Regions from separate parts of the Homo sapiens genome. Here region 1 is linked to region 2. The links come from fine-mapping of genetic effects on gene expression. A gene starts in region 2. The other region holds a variant in brackets. All regions are shown on one strand. Distances are between the middles of the regions. Region 1 overlaps CD86 (CD86 molecule). Region 2 holds the start of CSTA (cystatin A).

Evidence for each region. PIP is the estimated chance that this variant, and not a neighbour inherited with it, causes the effect.
Region 1: its variant is the best candidate, but not a certain one, in a credible set for the expression of CSTA in vagina (GTEx, PIP 0.81).

The regions. Positions count from the first base shown.
Region 1 is chr3:122,114,834-122,119,239 of GRCh38, reverse strand. CD86 (CD86 molecule) reads right to left here. Exons shown (of 7, transcript NM_175862.5): 6 at 1,147-1,192. Among named protein-coding and RNA genes, the nearest start is that of CD86, 62 kb to the right of the region's middle. The variant T/C (reference allele first, on the strand shown) is at 2,236.
Region 2 is chr3:122,323,111-122,327,516 of GRCh38, reverse strand. CSTA (cystatin A) reads right to left here and starts at 2,269. Exons shown (of 3, transcript NM_005213.4): 1 at 2,159-2,269. The coding sequence starts at 2,224.

The sequences.
Region 1 (4,406 bases), 210 kb after region 2:
TATTTCTGCCTGGCCCTTCCCATGCCCTCTGCCGGTTCTCTGCTGCCTGCCCTCTGCAGGCTCTTCCAGACCATTTCTGAAACTGAGTGTGACAGGGTAGGCAGGATTTCAGCACCCTTTCTCATTGTCCAAGGGTGCCCGGAATTATTAGTTTTGTTGCTAGAATCACAGTGGCTGGTATATCTGGATTAGTGCTGGGTACTCTCGGTTGTCTCTGCACCCTGGGGGTTATGACCCTATCTCTGAAACCAGGCTTGTGACTGAGGGTTGCTTTGATCCTATGGGTATGCAGTCAGAGCCTTGATATTCCTGAGAGCTTAATTTCTCAGGAGGGATAGAGGTACAGACTATCTGATAGCTTCACGTTGTGAAAGGACTGATCACCACGAACTTTTATGTATTCATCATGCATCAATCATTCTTTCAACATTTATTGAGAACCTGCTATATGCCAGGCACCATGCTAAGTGCTAGCAGCACAATGATGAGCTTAACTGGTATGGTCTCTGCTCTTCATAGGATTTAGTTAAGTCTAGTTTATAGAGTTTAATAAGATAATTACACAAATATGTAAGCATAATCTGGTGTTATTAAGAAAAAGCCAAGGGATCCACATGACACTGTAACAAGTTGACATTTTCTAGTTTGGGAAAGGGTTTTTAAGAAAGTGCTGCTTGAGGCAAGATCTGAAGAATGAGGTAAAGAAGTGGCAGAAGAACATCTAAACAGGGCCATAGCAAATACTAAGATGCTCAGGCTGAAGCAAACATGTTATCATTCCCCACTTCTTCATTTATTCATTCCACACATGTAGGATGCCCACTAATCTAGGCACTGTGCCAGGTACTGGGGTTACTGTGGCAGATAAGATGAAGCCCATGTTCACCACCTCTGAAGTCTTTGGTATTGACTTTTACTTGACCATGACAGAGCTTGTCATGCTTTCTGGGCATTGTGCATTGGATACCCTGTCATCCATTATCAGGTTATTTTCTTCCAGTTCTTAACTAGTTTTATTTTCCTCTCCCTCTCCATTAGTTCAGGTTTGCTGAGGTCTCAACATATGTTAGGCATAAGCCTATTCAAGTAACAGGCACTCTGGGGATTATACCTCTCTCTCATCAATGTCTCAGGGTCAGGATTTACCTTTTCTTGGTCTGTTCACTCTCTTCCCTCTCCATTGTGTTGGTTCCTGAAAGACACCAAGAACAATCTTCAAAAATGTATTCCTCCTAGATACCAAAAGAAGGAAAGTTTGAAAAGGCTTCAAAGTTCTGGGACTGAGAGAGAAATTGTTGTGACTTTATATATGGAAGAGATAGTTACTCAAATGATGCAATTTCAGGGGGATTGGGAAGAAGTTTCTTGCATTCAAAAAGTATATGCCTTCCCTTTCTCACTGTGCCTTAAATTCTAACACTGGAAATAGATTTTTCACTTATATCTCTATCCTGGCTAACCAAAAAATACCATTGGGAGGGGTAATATATTTAGTTTTAGCAATCATTTTGTGATTGGAAGAGTTTCTAATCCTTTTCTGAAAGCAAGGTTTATAAGGAGGAGGAGAAGAAGTCTTGAAGATGTTGATGCCTAAATCGGCTAGCCAGATGGTGCTAAGAATATTACACAATGTTGCATGGGCAAGGCCAAGTGGGAAATTTCTAGCCAGCTAGACCTCACAAAGCCTGAGTTGCTATTGATAGGGACTTGCTACTGACACAACTTGGGATGTAAATTTCTCTAGGCTGACTGTTGTGATGATGCTATTGTCCCACGTAAACTCCAACAGGTTGCTAACCTGGGTGTCCATGGAGGTATTTATAGACCACAAGAATCCACTCAACAATACCTCTGATGGTTTTGTGATTCTGTCTTTACTAAATAGAGCATTCTTGAACACTTCCTGTCACTGGAAGTTCTCTTTTATGTGTGTATGTGTGTATTTAAAAACAATCAGCTTTTATGAGGCCACAAAGTCATAAGAATGATATAATGGACTTGGGTACTTGGGGGGAAGAGTGAGAGAGAGGTGGATGAAGGATAAAAGACTACACATTGGGTACAGTGGACATTGCTCGGGTGACAGGTGCATCAAAATCTCAGAAATCACCACTAAAGAACTCATCCATGTAACCGAAAACCATCTGTTCCCCAAAAACTATTGAAATAAAATAAAAATAAAAGATAAAAACAATCAGCTTTATGGAGGTATAATTAATAAATAATAAAACCCAA[T/C]CATTTTCAGTTTAGAGTTTGGTGATTTTAACGAATATATATAGTCACGTAACCACCACCACAATCAAGATCGAGAACATTTTTATAAGCCAAAATAGTTCGCTTTTCAGCTGATTCCTTTCCCCCATCCCATGGATAACCATGAATCTACTTAAAATAGTTTTGCTTTTTCTCAAATTTCATATACATGAAATTGTATAATGTGTATTCTTCTTGTGCCTGGATTGTTTCACTTAGCATAATGCTTTTGAAATTTATCTATGTTCTTGTGTATTATTAGTAGTCCATTCCTTTCTATAGCTTTGCAGTATTTCATTGTATAAATATACCACCGCCAACTGATGAAAATTTAGAATGCCAGGTTTGGTATTATGAAGCAAGCTGCTATGAACATTTGTGTATGAGTCTTTATATATTTTTAAATTTTTTAAAATTTCTGTTTGGTAAATGTCTAGGATTTCTGGGTTGTATAGCAGTATATGAGAGTTTCAGTTGCTTCATATCCTCTCCAACACTTGATGTTTATCAGACCTTTTAATTTTAGCCATTCTAGAGGGTGTGCAGTGGTATCTCATTATCGTTTTAATTTGTACTTCCCTGATGACTAATGATGTTGTGACTGTGCTCATCGGCCATCTGTATATCTTCTTCTGTTATGTATCTGTTCAAGTCTCTTCTTCTTGCCTTTTATTAAATGGATTGTCTTCTTACTAATGAGTAGCAATATGTAATTATATACTGGATACAAGTCCTTTATCAGATATATATTTTGCAAACGTTTTCTCCCTGTCTGTGGTTTGACTTTTCGTTTTTTAAACAAAGTCAAAGAACAAAAGTTTTCCATATTGATGACATCCATTTTATCTTTTTATGATATGGTTTTTGCTTTCTGTGTCCTATCTAAGAAGACTTGCCTAACTTAAGGTTACAAAGATTTTCTCCTCTGTTTTCTTTTGGAAGTCCTTTCATTTTAATTCTTAATATATAAGTTACTTTGTGTGTGTCTAGGTTCATACTTTTTCCATGTGGATATCTAATTGTCCCAACACTATTTGTTGAAAATACTATCCTTTCTGCATGGAATTACCTTGGTAGCTTTGTCAACAGTGTGAATCTATTTTTGACTCTCTATTTTGTTCCATTGACTGATATGTCTGTCCTTTTACCAATATCACACTGTATTAATTACTATATATAGTAAATATTGAAATTAGGTAGGTTAAGTCCACCTTTGTTCTTTTTTTTTTTTTTTTTTTTTTTTTTTGAGAGGGAGTTTCACTCTTGTTGCCCAGGCTGGAGTGCAATGGCACGATCTCAGCTCACAGCAACCTCTGCCTCCCGGGTTCAAGCAATTCTCCTGCCTCAGCCTCCAGAGTAGCTGGGATTACAGGCATGCGCCACCATGCCTGGCTAATTTTGTATTTTTAACCTTTGTTCTTATTTTTCAGAATTGTTTTGGCAATTGTAGATTCTTTGCATTTCCCTATAACTTTTCGAGTAAGATTTTTAGTATCTATTAGAGAGCTTACCAGGATTTTGATTGTGATTACATTTAATCCATAGATCAACTTGGAGAGAATGGTTATCTTAACATCTAGTCTTCTGATTCATAAACATGGCCTATGTCTCCATTTATTTTGGTTTACTTTAATTTCTCCAGTAGTAATATTGTATAGTTTTCAGTATATAGACCTTGTACTTGTTTTGTTAAATTTATTTCCAAGTTTTTAATATTATTTGATGCTATTATAAATGCTATTAATTTTTTTCAATGTACAATTGCTTTTGTTAGTATATAGAAATAATTGATTTTGTGTATTGACTTTGTATCCTGTGTCTTTGCTACACTCACTTATCAGTTTTAATAGGTTTTTGATAGATTCCTCAGGATTTTCTACAAGCATGATCATTATCTGTGAAAAAAGACAGTTTTACTTCCTTTCCAATCTGTATGTCTTTTATTTCTTTTTCTAGTCTTGTTTCTCTGGCTATGACCTCCAGTACAATGTGGAACAAAAGTAGAGAGAGTAGACATCCTCCCCACATTCGCCATCTTAAGGTAAAAGCAATCAGTCTTCTATCATGAAATATTATGCTAACAGAAGAATTTTTGGTAGATGTCCTTTGTCAGGTTGAGGAAGTCATCTTGTATTCCTATTTTTATGAGAGCT
Region 2 (4,406 bases):
CACTCTGTTGCCCAGGCTGGAGTGCAGTGGTGCAATCTCGGCTCACTGCAAACTCCACCTCCCGGGTTCACGCCATTCTCCTGCCTCAGCCTCCCGAGTAGCTGGGACTACAGGCGCCCGCCACCACGCCAAGCTGATTTTTGTATTTTTTAGTAGAGACGGGGTTTCACTGTGTTAGCCAGGATGGTCTTGATCTCCTGACCTCGTGATCCACCCGCCTCGGCCTCCCAAAGTGCTGGGATTACAGGTGTGAGCCACTGCGCCTGGCCCTTTTTTTTTTTGAGACAGAGTCTTGCTCTGTTGCCCAGACTGGGGTGCAGGCACTATCTTGGCTCACTGCACCTTCTGCATCCTGGGCTCAAGTAATTCTCCTGCCTCAGCCTCCTGAGTAGTTGGGATTACAGGCACCCACCACCATGCTCGGCTAATTTTTGTATTTTTAGTAGAGATGGGGTTTCACCATGTTGGCCAGGCTGGTCTCGAACTGCTGACCTTGTGATCCACCTGCCTCAGCCTCCCAAAGTGCTGGGATTACAGGCATGAGCCACTGAGCCCAGCCTGCACCCTGACTTTTAAAGCCCCATCTCCCACTGGCCTTGTAGGATGCCATATATCTCTGGTCCTGCCAGCAAGCAAGGCCATGGGTGGCAGCAGCAGCAGCACTTGGGAGTCTGGTAGAAATGCAGAATCTCAGACCTACCCCAGGTCCCCTGAATCAGAATCTAAGGTTTATCAAGACGTGCAGGTGATTCATGTGCACATTCAAGTTTGAGAACATTGATCTGATCTGGGGATTCACATGAAGACATTACTGACTTAATATCATCTCCCAGGAAAAAAGCTCCAAGATATTTATTTAAAAAAAGAACTCTTGAAAGAGAAATAATTAGTCCCCAAGAATGAGTGATGGGATTCTAGGCATCTGGCCCCTTAGAGAGCTTTCTAGTTCCCAGAATATACAGGATCCCAACTCTTATAATCACACAAAAAGCTGATCTTGTTTTCCAAGCTGTCATAGAATGATGTTTCAGAGAGAAAAAATAAGAAGGAATAATATAAGAAAATAAGGCAACAAACTAAAAACCTAAAGTAGTAATTTGTACATGTTTTCCTTTCATAAAATATGCAAATAAATGTTTACTACATAGCTAGATGATAGCTAATCACACAAAGAAAAATATATCAGGGATGGGTGTGGTGGCTCACGCCTGTAATCCCAATACTTTGGGAAGCCTAGGTGAGTGGATGGCTTGAGCCCAGGAATTCAAGACCAGTCTAGCAACAGAATGAAATGCCATCTCTAAAAACAAAACAAAACAAAACCCCCCAAATCAGCCAGGCGTGGTGGCATATGTCTGTAATCCCAGCTACTCAGGAGGCTGAGTGGGGAGGATCGCTTGAACTCAAAAAGTTGAGGCTACAGTGAGCCGTGATCAGACCATTGCACTCCAGCCTGGGTGACAGAGTGAGACCCCATCTCTTAAAAATGAAACAAAACAAAACAAAAAAGAAGAAGTGAAAAACACATCAATCTGCTAACAACATTGAGTTCTATTTTTCCATATATAATTTGGTGCCCTATGACATTTCGGAGTCACTATAGACTGTCACCTCTGTTCTATTAGTTGAATTACCTTTTAACTATGAAAAGACTAAAACACTATCTATTTGGGCAAAAGTGTATGAAGTTTGTAAGTAGATTGCCTTTACAATATTATTCTTCATTCAATCTATTTAAAAAAATTTTCCCTGCAGTGCATTCCAAGACTACTTCATCAAATTGTTAATAACCTTAGACTTCAATTACACGTTGGCTTCACTTGGTGAGATTAGAAAAGTTTCATCAGAAACTGAATTAGTAATTCTAGAATCATATCTTGTAAGAGCTTTAGAGAAGATACAATACAAATTCTTTTACCCATGGAGAAAATGAAGCTCAGAGAAGAAATGTGATTTGCTCAAGGTCACACTCACAGTTTGGGGATTATTTGAGGCTTCATCTGAAAAACTCTTATTTCATCTTAGTTGTAAAGAAACCTGAACAAAGCCACAAACATCCTAAACTTCTGGTTTTCATGTTCAACCACAGCCTTTCCACAGGGACAACTTATGAATCAAGATTTTGGCTCAGACTTTTTCCTGAATGGCATCAACTCACCTTATCAACAATCTCCTGGATTTCTGGAGTGGCGGGTTTGGCCTCAGATAAGCCTCCAGGTATCATTTTGGCTGATTGCTTCTTTGCTGGACAGGATGCTGGAACCAAAGTGAACAGGGAAGTGTGGAGACTCGTGTTTTAAAAGAGGCGTTCACTAGCTCCGCCTATAGAATGCTTTATTTTCCACAAACAGCAAAGAGGCATGGGGAAAATGAGTATGCCGCCAGGCAAGTCTTCTTGCTTCCTGGAGAGAATATGCTACATGGAATTTGGAAGAAAGAGGGGTTGGAGGATGAACAAATGGGCAAGTACAGGAGTCATGTCCTAACAAGCATCAAACGTCCCTGCATTCTCTTTGACAATGGTTCCATCCTGTTGCATCATCTGAATTATGAAATCTGAAGCCGCAACTAGAATTTCCAAATGTTTTAAAACTTCTAACACAAAATTTTATTTTTTTTAAAGCAAAACTTACTAATAATGTCAAGGTTAGTTTAGAATTTACTTGACTTTAGAAAGAAAGCAAAAGGATCTATCTGGAGGACCTTGGCTGGATGTGTCTTCTTTACTCTTATTTAAATATCTGGAAATGTTTAACATACGGTAAAACACAAAGAATAAAATAACAAACATCTATATTTCTATCACTCAGAATTAAAACTTTTAACCCTTTTGTCATATTTGCTTGCTGTTTTTTATTTTTGTAGTTATTTTTAGGAAATAAAATATTACAGATATGGAGGAAGCCCCACACCCCACGCAACCTTGCCTTCCAGAAGGCAAAGTACATGGTGAATTAATATCCTTCCAGGCCATTTTTATATGTGTGTCTTTAAAATTAAAATATGTCTTACTTGGTGTGTCTTTAAAATTTCACTTAAATTGTATGCTAAATATATTCTATGTTATGTTCCTTTTTCTATTCAACATGTTTTTGAGCCTTTCTATGTTGATATACACATAGATCAATCCACAGATAGATCAATCCTGTTCATTTCCTTTAACTGTGATATGCTATTTTATGCTAGACCTATCTATTTAGTCTACCTATCTAATTGCTATATTCTAGTTCATATTTTACATACTCATTTCTCTATTGATGACGATTTTCGTTGTTTCTGGTGTTTCATTCTTACAAACAACGTTGCATTTTTTCTCCTTTTTACATGAGTGAGGGCTTCTGCAGACAACTTATCTAGAAGCAAAATGGCCACATTGTGTGAATATTTATGTATATTATTTTATTCAATTTTGGGAATATATAATACATACACAGGATAAAAATGTTTGGAAGGAACCAGGCTTTACAATATAAGGAATTATTCACTCACTTAATTCCTCAGACACCCTTCTACTCTCCAGAGACAATTATTGGCACCAACTTCTTCTGTATCCTTCAGAGACATTCTTTACACATACAAATATAAAAATAATTGGAGGCTGGGCACGGTGACTCACGCCTGTGATCCCAGCACTTTGGGAAGCCGAGGTGGGTGGATCACAAGGTCAAGAGATTGAGACCATCCTGGCCAACATGGTGAAACCCCATCTCTACTAAAAATACAAAAATTAGCTGGGCGTGGTTGCGTGCGCCTGTAGTCCCAGCTGCTCAGGAGGCTGAGGCAGGACAATCGCTTGAACCTGGGAGGCAGAGGTTGCAGTGAGCCAAGATCGCGCCACTGCACTCCAGCCTGGTGACAGAGCAATACTGTGTCTCAAAAAAAAAAAAAAAAAAAAAATTGGCTACACACACACGCACACACACACATAGATACATATTCATCTATATAGGTTTTCTTTTATAAAAATGGTATCCTACATAAATTATTATACTTTTTGTTTTATTCCTAACAATATATTTTGGAGACTGTTCTATATCACAATACAGGGAGGTGCTTGTTTCTTTATAATGATGTTTGGTGGGTGCTTGGCAAACTCTTGGAGCTAAGTGAGTGTCTTACAGGCTAAACTAAGGGGTGCTACACAAGTATCTCTCCATAGAATGCCTTTACCCTGTGGATTAAGAAGAACAGCGAATGTGGATGACAAGGTGCTCCCTCAAGAGGCCACAGGTCATCTGAAGACTTTGGCTCAGCTTTCATAGGCCACTGGTTCTACTCATCTTCATGTGACCTCCCCAAGTCAAGTCCTTTCATATTAAGGCCCCTGACGTTTTTCCAAGCCTGAAGCCCATTTTTAGTTGTCTGCTGACATCCTAGTCCAGGCCATCCTTATTGAATCTCCCCAG